3 linked regions of the Homo sapiens genome follow. The protein of the gene in region 3 purifies or fractionates together with the protein of the main gene of each other region. This does not show direct contact. Each region holds a gene or a part of one and is shown on either strand. Other genes may lie near its edges.

Region 1 (3,655 bases), on a different chromosome or scaffold from region 3:
GTTTCAAATGTGTCATCGAGCACAAGCCTTAAAGTATATTTTATATTAAAAAGTAAATTGGTAACTGTTTGAAAAAACAATTCGCCCAATTGATATTGTTCACTATTTAATAAAATTCTGTTTGACAAACCTCTCTCTCTGTTGTCACGACGGTCTCGCTCTCCATGTCTTCTCTCAAAGGAAGAATCCCTTGCTTGATCTCTGTTGTCTCTTTCAGGATATCTATCTCTTTCAGGATAGCTACTTCGAGTTTCCCAGCTGTCATGATAGTTGCTATTACTACTGTGACTATCAATTTGAGAACCTCTTGAGCCTCGACTTCCTAAACAAAGGATAGACACACAAATGTTTACCACATACACTTTATTCAACAAATTTCATCAGTCATAATCTTTCCTCCTAAACATCACTAATATATATATTTAATATTCCAAAGTGTGGTAATCACTCCTGAAAAGAGTATCAAGCAATGAATCAGAACAACCAAGGTGTCCAATGACTGACCTGAGTAGACGAAGTCCCAGTTTTCCCTACCTATATAAAAGTCATATGATAAAATCATAAAATAATAAGATTCATTAAAATTAACCTGTCCCCCCAAAAAAAACAAAAAATAAAAACTATTTCTTCATATTTAATTCACAGATATATAAAAATAATGAAAGAAAAAAATGGGTACGTATTATTGCTTAAATACAGTTTACAGTGAAAACATTCCAACATAGAACACCAAGGTTAATGACAACATTAAACTGTATGTGAAAATTTTCATTAACAGATGTGGGAAACAAATGTTCACAGTGGCTTTGTTGATAACAGCCAAAACCTGCAAAGTACACTAATGTCTTTCAATGGATGAACAGTTAAACAAACTGTGGCACATGCATGCCATGGAATACTATTCGGCAATAAAAATGAATGACCGATATATGCAACAACTTGGATGAACCCCAAGAAAAAATTATGCTGAGTGAAAAAGCCAATCTCAACAGGATACATATAGCATTATTCCATTTACGAGACAATTACAAAACAAGGGACACATAAGAGGTTGCCAGGGGTTGGGGCCAGGGGCCAGGGGAGGGTTGTGGCTATAAAGGGGTAATAAAAAGGAATCTTAGGATGTTATAGATGAGTATCTTGACTATGGAAATGGGCTACACATATGATAAAACTACAAAAAGCTACATACAGACATACACCCAAGTGCATGTATACTGGTGAAATGTGAATAAACTCTATGGATTGTACCAATGTCAATTGTTTGGTTTTGATACTATGCTATAGATAAGATGTTAGATGTTAACACTGGAGAAGTTGGGGTAAGGATAAACAAAGTTTCCCTGTACATTTATTTGCAATCTCCTGTGAATTCCTAATTACTTCAAAACAAAATGAAATTTAAAAAAAAGCTTTTTTTGAGCAGTGAGGGTTAGGAGTAGAGAAACAGTACTGGGGCTGTGATAATTTAGGAATATCTGGCAAAAACAAAGACAGAAACTCTGAGGGCCCTGCCCTCAACCTCATAGAATTACCATGGATAAATCTTTGACAAAGATGAGTTCACTCCAAACTTAAAAGAACATATGATGATTTCCAATTTCATCCATGTCCCTACAAAGGACATGAACTCATCATTTTTTATGGCTGCATAGTATTCCATGGTGTATATGTACCACATTTTCTTAATCCAGTCTATCACTGTTGGACATTTGGGTTGGTTCCAAGTCTTTGCTATTGTGAATAGTGCCGCAATAAACATACGTGTGCATGTGTCTTTATAGCAGCATGATTTATAGTCCTTTGGGTATATACCCAGTAATGGGATGGCTGGGTCAAATGGTATTTCTAGTTCTAGATCCCTGAGGAATTGCCACACTGACTTCCACAAGGGTTGAACTAGTTTACAGTCCCACCAACAGTGTAAAAGTGTTCCTATTTCTCCACATCCTCTCCAGCACCTGTTGTTTCCTGACTTTTTAATGATTGCCATTCTGACTGGTGTGAGATGGCATCTCATTGTGGTTTTGATTTGCATTTCTCTGATGGCCAGTGATGCATCATTCTCAGTAAACTATCGCAAGAACAAAAAATCAAACACTGCATATTCTCACTCATAGGTGGGAATTGAACAATGAGAACACATGGACACAGGAAGGGGAACATCACACTCTGGGGACTGTTGTGGGGTGGAGGGAGGGGGGAGGGATAGCATTAGGAGATATACCTAATGCTAAATGACGAGTTAATGGGTGCAGCACACCAGCATGACACATGTATACATATGTAACTAACCTGCACATTGTGCACATGTACCCTAAAACTTAAAGTATAATAATAATAAAATAATAAATAAATAAATAAACAAATAAATAAAAAAGAAAAAAAAGAACATATGACAAACTAACCCACCCAAAGACAGAATCAAAAGGCACTTCCCCAAGATTTAAAAAACAAACAAAAACACAAAGAATACAAATGTAACAGGCTTTTGAGACCTAAAAGAATTACAGCATGATTCTACGGGTATTTTAATAATCAAAATAGCTGTGAAAAATATTTTAATAATTAAAGACCAGGAAGAAAAAATTTAAAACATTTTTACAGACTACAAAAAGGCTACATATAACATCTAGGAAAGAATGGATTAACCATCAGATTAGATGCAGCTAAGAAAAAATTGGTAAACTAGAAGGTAAGCCTGAGAATATGACCTAGAGGCGAAACAGATAAAGAGATGAAAAATTTGAAAGTTAAGAATGAAAGAAGATACAATGAGGAGATTTAATCTGTCTAAAACTATATGTTGTTTAGAGTTACATTTAAAAAAAAATTAAGCCTGAAAGGATGGAAAAAGATATATCAAACAAATACTAACCAAAAGACAGCTGCCAGCAAAACAATCTTCAAGAAAAATACAGGCTGAATGCCCTTTATCTGAAATGCTTGGGACCACAGGTGTTTTGGATTTTGGAATATTTGCATTATATTGGTTCAGCATCCCTAATCTGAAAAATTGGAAATCCAAAATGCTCCAATAAGCATTTCCTCTGAATGTTATGTCAGCTCTCAAAAAGTCTGGATTTTATCAGTTGCTAGTGGCTATAGAAAAAACAAAAAACAAAAACAAAAAAAATTACATTAAAAAGTTTTAGATTTTGGAGCATTTCAGATTAGGGATGCTCAACCTGAACCTGGCATAAACAGTCATTCTATAATGAATAAAGAAAGAAATAACTCAATTTACGTGTACCTAATAGCAAAGCTTCAAATATTCAAATAAAAAAATGATCAAACTATAAGTAGAAATCAACAAATCTACAAATTCCACAATCACAGTGGAAGACTGAACTCACCTCTCTGTAATGACAGAACAAACAGACTAAGAAAAATTACATGTAGATTTGAAAGTGTAGTTAAAACAAACTTTATCTTAGAGAAACATTTTGCATTCAACCATTACAAATGCAACTCCTTTGAAAGCATATGCAGAACACTTATAAAAACAGACCACTGAGCCACAAAATAAGAGTTAACAAATACATATCCCAAAGAACTGACTTTCAACAGAGTATTTTCTGACAACTAAAATGGGGGGAGAGAACTTAATCCTTAACACAATAAAAAGTATCTGCAAAAAATCTACAAACACCAT
Region 2 (3,655 bases), on a different chromosome or scaffold from region 3:
CTGAGGTCAGGAGTTCGAGACCAGCCCGGCCAACATGGTGAAACCACGTCTCTACTGAAAATACAAAAAATTAGCCGGGTGTGGTGGCGGATGCCTGTAATCCCAGCTACTTGGGAGGCTGAGGCTGGAGAATCGCTTGAACCCAGGAGGCGGAGGCTGCAATTAGCCGAGATCACACCCCTGCACTCCAGCTTAGACAACAAGAGCGAAACTCCAGCTCAAAAAAAAAAAAAGAATTTTTCTTTTTTTTTTCGAGATGGTGTCTCCCTCTGTCGCACAGGCTGGAGTGCAGTGGTGCTATCGCAGCTCACTGCAACCTCTACCTCCTGAGTTCAAGTGATTCTCCAGCCTCAGCCTCCCAAGTAGCTGGGACTACAGGCGCCTGGAATCACACCTAGCTAATTTTTGTATTTTTAGGAGAGACGGGGTTTCACCATGTTGGCCAGGTTGGTCTTGCACTCCCGACCTCAGGTGATCCACCTGCCTTGGCCTCCCAAAGTGTTTGGATTACAGGCGTGAGCCTTTTTTCTTTTTGAGACGGAGTCTCGCTCTGTCACCAGGCAGGCTGGAGTGCAGTGGTGCGATCTCAGCTCACTGCAACCTCTGCCTCCTGGGTTCAAGCGGTTCTCCTGCCTCAAGCCTCCCGAGTAGCTGGGATTACAGGCGTGCACCACCACGCCCAGCTAATTTTGTACTTTTAGTAGAGACGGGGTTTCTCCATGTTGGTCAGGCTGGTCTTGAACTCCCAACCTCCCAAAGTGCTGGGATTACAGGCATAAGCCACCATGCCCAGCCCGTTGTATTCTTTGGGAGGCAGGCAGATCACCTGAGGTCGGGAGTTCGAGACCAGCCTGGCCAACATGGTGAAACCCTGTCTCTACTAAAAATACAAAAATTAGCCGGGCGTGGTGGTACATGCCTGTAACCCCAGCTACTCGGGAGGCTGAGGCAAGAGAATTGCTTGAACCCAGTAGGTGGAGGTTGCAGTGAGCCGAAATCACGCCACTGCACTCCAGCCTAGGGGACAAGAGCAAGACCTTGTTTCAAAAAAAAAAAATTACCCGAGCATAGTAGTGCACACCTACAGCCCCAGCTACTCAGGGGGCTGAGGCAGGAGGATCACTTGAGCCTGGGAGGTGGATGCCACCACGAGCTGAGATGGCAACCCTGCACTCCAGCCTGGGTGACAGAATCAGACCCTGTCTCAACAACAACAACAAAAAAAAAGATGGCGGGGGGGAGTAATACATCTGAATTTAAGTTTCTACAGGGTTCTGACTTTTAAAAACATGTTCGTGATTTACATACTCAAATAAGTAAAGCCGGGTGCGGTGGCTCACGCCTGTAATCGCAGCACTTTGGGAGACCGAGGTGGGTGGATCACGAGGTCAGCAGTTCGAGACCAGCCTGGCCAAGATGGTGAAACCCCATCTCTACTAAAAAAAAAATACAAAAATTAGACAGGCGCAGTGGCGGGCACCTGTAATCCCAGCTACTCGGGAACCTGAGGCAGGAGACTCGCTGGAACCCAGGAGGCAGAGGTCACAGTGAGCCGAGATCGCACCACTACACTCCAGCCTGGGCAACAGAGCGAGACTCCACCTCAATAAAACAACAACAACAAAAAAAACAAAAAAAAAAGAAATAAGTAAATAAACAAAAAGATGGGGGAGACACCCACATGGAATACTAGCCAGAAGAAATGCACCTAACTGTATTACAAGTGAGTAACACAGGGGAAGCTAACCTACGTAACTTTGGAAAACAGTGAGTGACTAGGTGCTCTAAGGAGAAAGACAAAAAGGACTGTGCACCATTACCGTGTGAACAGGCTCTAGGCAGTAGATGTTTTCACAATGGTATAGGTTAACACACCTAAAGCTATTTTCTGTGGACTCTAGGGCAAAGCAAATAATTGGAATACACGGTGGCTGATGAGAGCCAGGACTCTCAATGACAGAAAGGAAAGTGGGAGTGAGAACAGGGTTTCAGCAAACGATTCCTGTAAAGGGCGAGAGAGTAAGCATCTCAGACTCTATGAGCCAAAGGCCACGTGAGTGCTCAGAACAGCCACAGGCCGCGTGTGGCGGCTCACACCTGTCACCCCAGCGCTTGGGGAGGCCGAGGCGGGAAGATCACTTGAGCCCAGGAGTTCAAGACCAGCCTGGGTAACACAGCGACACCCTTTCTACAAAAACTTTAAAAATTATCTGATGGCTGGGCGCGGTGACTCATGCCTGTAATCCCAGCACTTTGGGAGGCCGAGGCAGGTGGATCATGAGGTCAGGAGATTGAGACTATCCTGGCAAACACGGTGAAACCCTGTCTCTACTAAAAATACTAAAAAATTAGCCGGCCATGGTGGCGGGCGCCTGTAGTCCCAGCTACTCAGGAGGCTGAGGCAGGAGAATGGTGTGAACCCAGGGGGCAGAACTTGCAGTGAGCAGAGATGGCGGCACTGCACTCCAGCCTGGGCGACAGAGCGAGACTCCGTCTCAAAAAAAAAAAATTAGCTGAGTGTGGTGACGTGCACCTGTGGTTCCAACTACTTGGGGGGCTGAGGAAGGAGGATAAATTAAGCCTAAGAGTTTGAGGATGCAGTGAGCCCTGTTTGTGCCACTGCACTCCAACCTGGGCAACAGAGCAAGACCCCGTCTCCAAAAAAAAAAAAAAAAAGAACAGCCACAGATATACATAAACAAAAGGGTATGGTTGTATTCCAATAAAACTTTACTAAGGAAAATAGGTGGGGGCCAGTTTGGACCACAGTTTACTGACTCTTGCATTAGAATAAAGCCAGGGAGCCGGACACGGTGGCTCATGCTGGTAATCCCAGCACTTTGGGAGGCCAAGGTGCATGGATCATTTGAGGTCAGGTGTTTGAGACCAGCCTGGCCAACATGATGAAACCAGGTGTCTACTAAAAACACAAAAATTAGCCAGGCATGGTGGCATGCACCTGTCATCCCAGCTACTCAGCAGGCTAGGTGGGAGAATCGCTTGAACTGGGCAGGCAGAGGTTGCAGTGAGTCTCCAGCCTGGACAACAGAGTGAGACTCCACCTAAAAAAAAAAGAATAAACCCGCGGACGTCGCATTGAAATTGGAAGTATCAGTATGATCACAAGGTCTTTGACAGATCGATGGGTAAAGATGTGAGAAACAGCTAGGTCTGAACACTGGGTTATAATGTTCCATTAACAATTTTTTTTTTTTTGAGATGGAGTCTTGCTCTGTCGCCCAGGCTGGAGTGCAGTGGCACGATCTCTGCTCACCGCAACCTCCACCTCCTGGGTTCAAGCAATTCTGCTGCCTCAGCCTCCCGAGTAGCTGGGATTACAGGTACCTGCCACCACGCCCCGCTATTTTTTTGTATTTTTAGTGGAGACTGCCTCACCATGTTGGCCAGGCTGATCTTGAACTCCTGACCTTGTGATCCACCTGCCTCGGCCTCCCAAAGTGCTGGGATTACAGGCATGAGCCACCGCAACCGGCCAAGTACACAACTTTTGAGACTGGCTTTTCCTATTCAGCATAATGCCCTTGAGATCCACCCACGTGGCAGAGTGGATCGCTGCGGAGTGGCACCCCGGGGCACCCACGTGGCAGAGTGGATCACGCAGTGTGGCACCCCGGGGCACCCACGTGGCAGAGAG
Region 3 (3,129 bases):
TGGGGGTGTGGAGCACTCAGTTGATTGGATGAATGTGGCACCAGCATCTAGGAAAGTCCCTCATTACTGTTCAGAGGGAAATGTCTGCAGTGGAGGGAGACTGTCCTCAAGGGAAGGGGCTACCCTGAGAGACCTTTTTCTAGTTCTGATCTGTTTTTGCCTTCTTGCCTGAATGTGCCCAGTTATAACTGAGACCAAGCACCAGTGTAACAGAGGCCCATGCATCCAGGCCCGAGCAATCTACAGTGACTGCAAATTCCCTTATTTTGTGTAAGCCCCAGAAACACTGGACTGAGGGAGGGCAACAGAAAATATCCCATTATCAACACAAGCTTCTCCACACTTTCCCCAGCGTCTGGCTCTCAGGTGTGCAGAACAAGTCCAGGGACTCTGGGACTTAGCTGACACCTCTACTCACTCCTGGCTGAGCTGCTGAACTTGTTGGGGGCCAGCTCCACAGGGCGACTAGACAGGCCTCATCCCATGAGGTCCTGAGAGGCCTGGGGGCTAGACTTGGGCCAAGGTGTTGCTGCCGTGAGAAGCACCCACCCCTAGCTCTTGAATTGCTTTCCCCCGAGGTACAGAAGGAGAAGCTGGATAGAGGAATTCACAACTCTGGGTAGAATAAAAGTGAACATTTAATGCCACCATAGTTTGATTTTTTTTTAAACACCAGATTCTTTTTTGACAACATTTTACACCTCATATGCCACAAAAAGTCAGAGATCGTAGCCAGCAAACAATGTCTTTACACTGGAAAATGCCACACAGCTTAATGGATTCATGTCACCAGTTTGTGAGAACTATAACTCTTTTTTTCTGGACTGTTCTCCAGGGAGCCTGCTCATATTTATCATAATCAAGCCAACACCTAACGTTTATATAGCTTGCAAAGGCCCATGCACAAAACTAGCCTGCCAAGGGGCTGCTGGGACCTGCCCAAGTACAGAAGAGTTGAATTTCTGACTTTAACAAATGAGTTTTATTGAAGCATTTTAACAGCAAACACTTGTGAACTAATAATGTTTTGAATGGCCCCAGTCTTCCATCTGGTTAAACAGTGGATTTCAGACAGTAACATTAAGCACTACCATTGAATTGTAAAACAAGATTTTATGAACTTATTTAGGAATTCACTGTTTCTGGCACAATAAATGCACCTGGGCAGACCTTGTCTCCACTTTTCAAATGGGCCCATTTCTACAGATAAGCATATTTATATACACATACATACATTACTAATCATGGAATTAGAGATCCAGAGCTTGAAGGAACCACAAAGATCATCTAGCACAATGTCTTCATTTTATAGGTTAGAAAACTGAGTTCTGGAGGAGTTAGGTAATATATCACGGACGGGACGACTGGCAAAGCTGGAATTAGAACTCAGGTTTTCTGTCCTATGGAATATATCACGGACAGGATGACTGGCAAAGCTGGAATTAGAACTCAGGTTTTCTGTCCTATGGAATATATCACGGACGGGACGACTGGCAAAGCTGGAATTAGAACTCAGGTTTTCTGTCCTATGGCCTTTCACCATGTCAGGTACCTCCTGTACACACACATCCGTGTATGTACACACACCTTAGAGGAATGGTATGTGTTCATGTCTACACATACCTGGTGCAATATGATCTGATGGGAAGAATCCAATAAGCTGGACTCAAGTCCCTGTTTTGCTATAAAACCACTCTGTGAACTCGGGCCAGTCAATGACTAGACTTCAGTTTCTTCATCTGTAAATGATTACCCCCAGCTCCTAGACAGACCTTTAATTTCTTCAAAGCACTTCCCATCACTTATACCACTTTCTCTTGATGCTCTCCCAGAAGGGCAGCTGTTCTGACCCCCAGTCTTCCACTCGGGAACCTGAGGCCCAGCAAAGCGAAGAGGCTCGCCCAAGGTTGCACAGCTAGTAACAACCAGGCCTGGCGGCCCATGTCCTTGCTCCTAGCTCAAGGCCTAGCCCCTCCCTGCCTCTCGGGACCCAGTGAGGGGACAAAATGCCTTAAGATTGTAAGACTCACTAAAGTACTTTGGTTTTTCCAGAGGAAAAAAACAGGTACTATATATATCCAAGCTAAGGAACTCCAATTGCTTTCCCAAACCCTCTTCAGTAGCACTAGGGGTTGGATGGGAGTCTTAGGGAAATGTAGGGAACTAATACTATCAGCACTTTCCTCAGGAATTGAATGTTGAACCATTAGGAAGAGGCTGAGTCCTCTTCCGTGCAAGCCGGTGGGCGTGGATTTCCAAGCCCATTCTCATCAAATTCAAAACGAAGGGATCTTTCCCATTTGGCTGCTTACTACAGAAACAGCTTAGATTTTGAACTAAGCCCTGTGCATTGAGGATTGGACCCTAATCCCTATTCTCTTGCTTTATCTGTCCTCTCCCCATCCCCCAGCCCATGTTTCCACTAACAGACTTTGCTTGAGTGAGAAAAACATGGAAAAAAATAGCCACAGACAGATCCAGCAAATCTCCACCTCGATGCACGGCACGTGGATAGCATTTCCAACCGTGATGCATAATAAGTAAATGAGAGAACACGAGCAATGCTGTAAAGCAACATCCTGAGTTCACAAATAAATTAGAACTTCTTCATAAATCAAATATTACAATGTGGGCTGTTAGCAGGATAGGGAATGAAAGAAGGAACCTTTTTTAGTGTTGAAGGTAATTTCTAGGTACGCATGGAATAGATGTGTGAGTGTGGTATTTCAGTACTCGCCTCCACACGTGTGGACCTTGGGAACAACTATGCTTAGAGATTAAGGTTTGTATGCAATGAAGGCTTGATACTGCCCCAAGCCGCACTGTGTCCAGTGTTATGACATTGCTGCAGGTTCTGGGTAGGGCCACCCAAAAGCAGAATGTGTTTGTTTAGGGAGGGATAAATTAGTTTCCAGGAATTTTCAGAAAAAATTTTTTTGAGAAGATGAGCTTAAATGACAGTATCTTCTCCCGGATTAGAATTACGCTTGCATTATGATGGAAATAATGAACAGGTTGTAATTTTAAAATGTGTCATTTTGTCAGGAAGATTACTAAGTGATGCACTTTATAAGCTGTTACCCACCAATGTTGACAGATACTTTCTGGAGGTGGAAAAAGAGGTATCAG

The links.
Region 1: the proteins of KIF26B (region 3) and ZC3H13 purify together in Homo sapiens (affinity purification with mass spectrometry; one large-scale study listed by BioGRID and IntAct). This does not show direct contact.
Region 2: the proteins of KIF26B (region 3) and ANKLE2 purify together in Homo sapiens (affinity purification with mass spectrometry; one large-scale study listed by BioGRID and IntAct). This does not show direct contact.

What each region holds. Positions count from the first base shown.
Region 1 is NC_000013.11:45,979,683-45,983,337, forward strand, and holds part of ZC3H13 (zinc finger CCCH domain-containing protein 13), read right to left. Parts: intron 323-3,655; coding exon 131-322; intron 1-130. UniProt on the Homo sapiens protein: Associated component of the WMM complex, a complex that mediates N6-methyladenosine (m6A) methylation of RNAs, a modification that plays a role in the efficiency of mRNA splicing and RNA processing.
Region 2 is NC_000012.12:132,755,326-132,758,980, forward strand, and holds part of ANKLE2 (ankyrin repeat and LEM domain-containing protein 2), read right to left. Parts: intron 1-3,655. UniProt on the Homo sapiens protein: Involved in mitotic nuclear envelope reassembly by promoting dephosphorylation of BAF/BANF1 during mitotic exit.
Region 3 is NC_000001.11:245,706,924-245,710,052, reverse strand, and holds the end of KIF26B (kinesin-like protein KIF26B), read right to left. Parts: 3' UTR 621-3,129; downstream 1-620. UniProt on the Homo sapiens protein: Essential for embryonic kidney development. Plays an important role in the compact adhesion between mesenchymal cells adjacent to the ureteric buds, possibly by interacting with MYH10.